Linked DNA regions of Homo sapiens. The protein of the gene in region 1 interacts with the protein of each later gene in a pairwise test. Each region holds a gene or a part of one and is shown in the gene's direction. Other genes may lie near its edges.

The links. The genes of interacting proteins can lie anywhere in the genome.
Region 2: the proteins of PRPF3 (region 1) and SMNDC1 interact in binary tests that used the Homo sapiens proteins (3 or more experiments, as listed by UniProt).

Annotation. Positions count from the first base shown.
Region 1 is NC_000001.11:150,349,033-150,352,532, forward strand, and holds part of PRPF3 (U4/U6 small nuclear ribonucleoprotein Prp3), read left to right. Parts: intron 1-124; coding exon 125-186; intron 187-3,500. UniProt on the Homo sapiens protein: Plays a role in pre-mRNA splicing as component of the U4/U6-U5 tri-snRNP complex that is involved in spliceosome assembly, and as component of the precatalytic spliceosome (spliceosome B complex).
Region 2 is NC_000010.11:110,298,421-110,301,920, reverse strand, and holds part of SMNDC1 (survival of motor neuron-related-splicing factor 30), read left to right. Parts: intron 1-1,184; exon of another isoform or gene 1,185-1,371; coding exon of another isoform or gene 1,372-1,374; intron 1,375-3,130; coding exon 3,131-3,273; intron 3,274-3,500. UniProt on the Homo sapiens protein: Involved in spliceosome assembly.

The DNA of each region.
Region 1 (3,500 bases):
AGAGAACACTTGGTCCAACACATAAAAAGGGTGATAATATTTTAGAGAGTTTGGGTAGACTTGAATATTATTTGTTTAGAACCTGAATCTCAAGTCTAAGTCTGTAACAAGATTTCTCTTCCAGATGATGAGGAGTCTGATGAGGAAGCTGTGAAGAAAACCAACAAATGTGTACTAGTCTGGGAGGTAGGTGATCCTTTGTAAAACATTGTAAAACTTTAGCCAACTCCTGAATATTTATACTATTTGAGTGGAGCAATGGAATGTAAGATGTAATCAGTGAATAATGTTTTAAATAATTTATGTTTCTTTTTGGAATCCATTTTTAAATGGTTGGCAGTAAATTCTTCCTGATCATCTGTTTAATTAAATTCGTGAGTATTTAGTATATGCTATCTGGGGAAGTGCGTGGACAGTGCTGCTGGTAGCAGGAATACAAATTCTCTACCGAAAATTATTTATTTCACAGTCATGAATATGAGACTTGGAAACGGGAATGAATTGTTGTTGGATTTACCTTTGGATATAGTGAAGGAAGTACTAGACTTAAGAATATAAAGTTAGGAGGCTGGGCAGTGCTGCTTATTAGCTGTGCAATCTGGGCAAGACACTTAATGTCAAATTCTGTTGCCTTAGCTATTGTTCTCTATATTGTCAAGTTTTTGAGAATGAAATTAGATAATTATGTGATAGTGCTTCATAAAATGTGACTGAATCACTCTTCAAGTGGAATATTTTTTATGGTTATCTAGTTCTTTAACCCCTGAAGCCTTCTTAGAGAACCAGTATTAAAACCAGTATTAATGTTTTCATGTTTGCTTTTAGGTATAGTACATGTATATCTTTTTTTGGGGGCGGGGGGGCGGGGGGCGGTATGGAGTTTCGCTCTTGTTGCTCTTGTTGCCCAGGCTGGAGTGCGATGGCGTGATCTCGGCTCACCGCAACCTCTACCTCCCAGGTTCAAACGATTCTCCTGCCTCAGCCTCCCAAGTAGCTGGGATTACAGGTGCACGCCACCATGCCCGACTAATTTTTGTATTTATAGTAGAGACAGGGTTTCTCCATGTTGGTCAGGCTGGTCTTGAACTCCCAACCTCAGGTGATCCGCCTGCCTCGGCCTCCCAAAGTGCTGGGATTACAGGCATGAGCCACTGTGCCCAGCCCCTCCATTTCTTTTTTTTTTTTTTTGAGAGAGTTTTGCCCTTGTTACCCAGGCTGGAGTGCAATGGTGCAATCTCAGCTCACCGCAACCACCGCCTCCTGGGTTCAAGTGATTCTCCTGCCTCGGCCTCCCGAGTAGCTGGAATTACAGGCATGAGCCACCACGCCTGGCTAATTTTGTATTTTTAGTAGAGACGGGGTTTCGCCATATTGGTCAAGCTGGTCTCGAACTCCTGACCTGAGGTCCGACTGCCTTGGCCTCCCAAAGTGCTGGGATTACAGGCATGAGTCACTGCGCCCGGCCATATATCTTCTATTTTTAAAATGTGCTTATTTCTAGTATATGTGCTGCTGAAGCGAGCAGTAAAATGTGCTTATTTCTATTAATGAATTCTTTATTATAAAAGTGGTACATTATTACAAAAGTAGTAAATGTTTATTAAGATTAGAAACAAATTCTAATTATACAGAAGAGTACTTACTGAGACCCAGCACAGTGGCTCACGCCTATAATCCCAGCACTTTGGGAGGATGAGGTGGTTGGATCACTTGAGCTCAGGAGTTCAAGACCAGCCTGGGCAATATGGCGAAACCCCGTCTCTACAAAAAATACAAAAATTAGCCTGGCCTGGTGGCGTCTGCCTGTAGTCCCAGCTACTTGAGAGGCTGAGGTGGGAAGATTGCTTCAGCTTTGGAGTTTGAAGCTGCAGTGAGCTGTGACTATGCCACTGCACTCCAGCCTGGGCACCAGAGTGAAACCCTGTCTTAAAAAAAAAAAAGAAAAAGTCTCAGGCCAGGTGCAGTGGCTCATGCCTATACTCCCAACACTTTGGGAGGCTGAGGTGGGCGGATTACGAGGTCAGGAATTCGAGACTAACCTGGCCAACATGGTGAAACCCAGTCTCTACTAAAAATACAAAAATTAGTGGGGCGTGGTGGCCAGTGCCTATAATCCCAGCTACTTGGGAGGCTGAGGCAGGAGAATCGCTTGAATCTGGGAAGCGGAGGTTGCAGTGAGCCGAGATCGCACCATTGCACTCCAGCCTGGGTGACAGTGCGAGACTGTGTCTCAAAACAAAAGTCTCTTCCTATTCGCTGATCTCTTCAGACCAGTCTTTATAGGTAATTGCTATTAATAGTTTTTCTTCTGAAGGAGCAATCAAAAAATAAAAATTAAAAAAAAAGGTTTTCATGTATCCTGCCTTATCCCAGATTCTTCAATTTATGCATACAAATTAGATGATAATAACCATAGTATTTGTTCTCTGTTTTATAAGTTCCCACCTGCATATTTGTTATCTTTTTTTAATCAACTTTTTTTTTTAGAGATAGGGTCTTGCTCTATTGCTCAGGCTGGTGTGCAGTGGCGCAGTCATAGCTCGCTACAGCCTTGAACTCCTAGGGACAAGCAATCCTCCAGTCTCAGCTTCTCAAGTATCTGAGACCTCAGGTCCACACCACTGTGCCTGGCTAATTTTTTTTTTTTTTTTTTTTTTTTTTAGAAATGGATCTCACTATGTTGCCTAGGCTTGTCTTGAACTCTTAGCCTTGAGTGATCCTCCCACCTCAGCCTCCCAAAGTGCTGGGATTATAGGCATGAGCTACTGTGCCCAGCCCTACCTTCACATATCTCAGCACCCTCATCTTTCAATTTTCTTCTATTTATCTCTGAAGAGTACTTACTGAAAAAGTCCCGGCTTCTTAGAGAACCAGTATTAATGTTGTAGGAATTTAGTTTTCAGGAATTGTCTCTCATGTTCAGAAATAAGCCAAGTTCTGCTCCAGCCTCCTTATTGGAGTCTACTCCCTGAACGCCTCTTGAGGTATTGCTTTATGACTGCCATTGCTGCTGGTAACTTTGGCAAGAATGCCATTCTGCCCAGTACTGTCTTTTTCTGTTGTAATTCTCTGCTGGTACCTGCTCTTCTTCTGTTCCCCGCCCCCAGTTGTTCTTTGTTGCTGGGCCCCAAAGCCTCCTGCTTATATAAATAGTTTCTGGGGCCTTTTTGAAGGCTCAGATTTAGTCCTTAAGGCCTGGTAGGAGATAAGTTTATCTCATTCCACCTTCCATAGTTCTTCCTGACTTGCTGTTCCACCCAGGCACCAGAGCAAATAATTCCTCACTTCATTTCAAAAAACTAAAAGCCTTATGCATATGAATTCGTAAAATCTCATACAAATATCCAAGGAGGCCGGGCGCGGTGGCTCACGCCTATAATCCCAGCACTTTGGGAGGCTGAGGCGGGAGGATCACGAGGTCAGGAGATCGAGACCATCCTGGCTAACACGGTGAAACCCCGTCTCTACTAGAAATACAAAAAATCAGCTGGGCGTGGTAG
Region 2 (3,500 bases), on another chromosome or scaffold:
TTTCTAGAATAATTCCTCATTAGAGTCTGAGCAGAACTGCCTTACCATGTCATGATCATCATAGTGGAAAGTACTGTAGGGGGAAACCATTGTGATAAACACTGTAGTAAGCCCCTAAAAGGCTTGCTTGCAGGGGTTCAGTTAATAATGACCTGGAAATCATTTTTCTGTAAAGTATCCTCTTTTCTATAACCATTTAAAACAGCACTGTCCAGTAGAACTTTCTGTGATGATGGAAATGTTCTATATCTGCTATTCAGTACCATAGCCACTAGCCACATTTGGTTGGATATTTGAAATACAGCTAGGTTTACTTAGGAGCTGAGTTTTTAGTATAACTTAATTAGCCACACGTGACTACCATACTGGATGGCAAGGATTTAGAAGTGCAAGTTTTAATACTTCAGATAGTAATAACAGAATGTTTTTCCTGACCAGTCTTGATCAGAGTTTCTTCCCATTTTATTCTATCATTAGAAATTTCATTTTGGTCCCTAGATAAGGTCTATTTTGAATTGAAAACTACTCAAAAACGGAAACCATCTTTTAAGATGAGGTAATACTCTGAAAAGTATTTGGCTATAAGCTTCCACTCAGTAATTGTTGTCTCCATTGAGACTACACTTAACAGCTTCTATTTTGCTGTGGGGTTCCCCCCCTCATTCCCCTCCTTTTTCCTTCTCTGCCTTCTGGGATGTATCTCATGCTATGGGTATTTAATTCAGCTTGTTATATTTGGTGAAAAGTCTGTTCAGACTGATTTTGTGGCTTCCTCATATTAATATTTTTTGACCATCATATGGTTTCTAATTTCTTGTGTTCCTCTATAGAATTAGATCCTTATCCCAGTTATTAATTTGTTTGCCCTTTGTTTTATGACAAAATGCTTTTTTTGCATCTTTTCAATGACTTCATTTTGCCAGTAAGGTTTCCATGTTTATCTCTTTCATGTACTGTCTTTCATAGAGACTAAAGTTATTCAGCAGGCAGCAAAATAATCTACTAAAGTCCTGCCTTTCTTTTTTCACTTAAAAAAGTGGGTGTGATAAAATCCAGGCTAGCTAGCTGACTAGCTCCCCGGGCAGTCTATGATAATCAGAGATAGTCAATTTATTAGGCTGTTTTGCTGAATAAGCTGGTTCTAAAGGAGGCAGGGGTCAAGTCACTTGTCTCATATATTACAGTGGCTCTCTGCATCCCCGAAACGCCTTCCTTCAGTAAGCAGAGTGCTTGAGTGCACCCCATTTGACCTGCTGATATGTAGATCACAACACCTGATGCTTCCTGGAATTGCCGATTACTGTAACTGCTGCCCATCTGTCGATGAAGGAGCAGTTTCAGAACTCAGACTTGAGGGAGGAAAAGTAATTAATGGTATGTACCTTCAAGAACCCCCTCATACATAAAATAGTTTTTCTAATACTTTGGTCCATACGCACATGTGAAGAATAGAAATTTAGAAGGTTCTTCATAGTTTGTTGGGAGGGTTATGTAAAACCATGGCAAAGTTAAAGGACATTAGGAGTAAATGCTCTGGATTTTTTCTAAAAAAGGGTCATTTCAGCACAGGCCTCTGAATTCACTAATATGCACAGCTTTTCAGGACCCTTTTCTTTGATGAAATATATTTCTTTAACAAAATATATTTGGAAAACAGTTCTGTCCTAAAAGAAATAGAGTTCTAAATCTGAAACCTACAAGTGCAGAATTCATGTCTGTGCTTAAGTTAAATGATCCCTAGGTGGATCTGGAAGTATTTAATGATAGAGATTTGTGTGGGCTCTTGAGTCAGGCTGACTGGATTACATTCCTACCCCTAAAAGTGGTTAAAAATAAGACCAGATAATTTACTCTTCTGTTGTGTACTACTTGATCTAGTTATTTGGAAGGTTCTTTGCTTTGTTTGCAAAGGACTGTCTAATTAAAAAGATCTAATTAATGGCTAGTTGGCAACTAATAAAACTTAGAGATATTATTCCTACTAAATTTTTAAATCAAACCTAAGTGTTCTATTTATTTATTTATAAAACTAACCTTTCTTCAAGAGATTTAAGACTCAAATATTAGTTTTTTCAGAAATAGCCAGGAAGATTTAGAATCTTTAGGAGAGAGGTAATATTTAACTTTCTTGGCTACTGGAATCAAAATTACTATTATGAAACCTCAGTGGGAACTAGAAGAAACTCAGTACATAGTTTAACTTTGTTAATTTTTCTCCCCAAACACACAGTATGATGTTTTAAATGCAACAATGGGTGAACAGCTATGCAAGTTCTTAGATCAGATAAGATGCATAGTGTGGATCTTCATTAGAGTAACAATATAGTAGACAGGTAGCAGAATCTGTCGGCTTGTACTGTTCTCAATTTTTTAGCCATCCCTACACCAAACATCTTTGAATGAAGCCAATAAATGTAAGCCTGAATTAGAAAAAAATATTTGCCACACAGAAAGGCATTGCCTTTGTGTGTTACCTTTTTTTCCCCCTTTTAAATGAAGCTGTGCTAATGTGCTTAACATTAAGGTATGGAACATTTAAAATCTAACCTGGTAATTTGCTTACCCAGATGGGGTGAGTTTTACAATAATTGAATAGGAAGACCACTGGTTTCTTTTACATTGCCTGTAGTATTTTAGTCGAGATATGTATAAGTAGGAACATTTTTGTTACTAATAAAGCTGCTTAAAGTGTTTTGGGATTGCTTGGCAGTTAATACTGCTGAGTAATGCCCTATAAAACAGTACAGTTGCATAAAATATGTTACAATAAGAGTATCTAATTCAGTGCCTCATACTTGACTTTCTCATCTTTAGAGAGATCTATTCAGCTAAAATAGGCACTTAGAAATAATGCATGGTATAAGCTCAAGTCTTATATTTTCATTAGTATTTGTGGTTAAGTTGAAAGGCAACTATATGGGCTTAAGTCACAGCTCTGCCACTTAACTGGTAGACAATACTGTATCAGTTTCTACATGGGGATAATCACAGTACTTGCTTAATAGTGTTATGAGCTGCAAATGAAATATATGTAGAGTACTTAACGTACAGTATGAAGGCTGTCATCAGAAACTAAGTTGACAATGAGAATTATAAAAATAATGTTGTAGTTTTTGTTTTTCTTTTTTAGGAAGTTATAGAACTAACCAAAGACCTTCTGTCAACTCAACCTTCTGAGACGCTTGCAAGTTCAGACAGTTTTGCTTCTACTCAACCTACTCATTCATGGAAAGTAGGAGACAAGTGTATGGCAGTCTGGAGTGAAGATGGACAGTAAGTGTAGAAAAAAAAACTCTAACTATAACATGAAATAATAAAATACAATGGTAAGAAGTTTTTATTCAGTTTTAACTACCCTATTTTAATCTTGACTTCTATTAGGCAGTATGATTTATAGAGCCAATTTGATTCTTGGGTGGTTGCCATTAATACAGTTTAGTTTTAGCTTTAGATTAAGTTTTGGGGAGAAGAATGGCTGGGATTCTGGAGGAAAGAAAAAC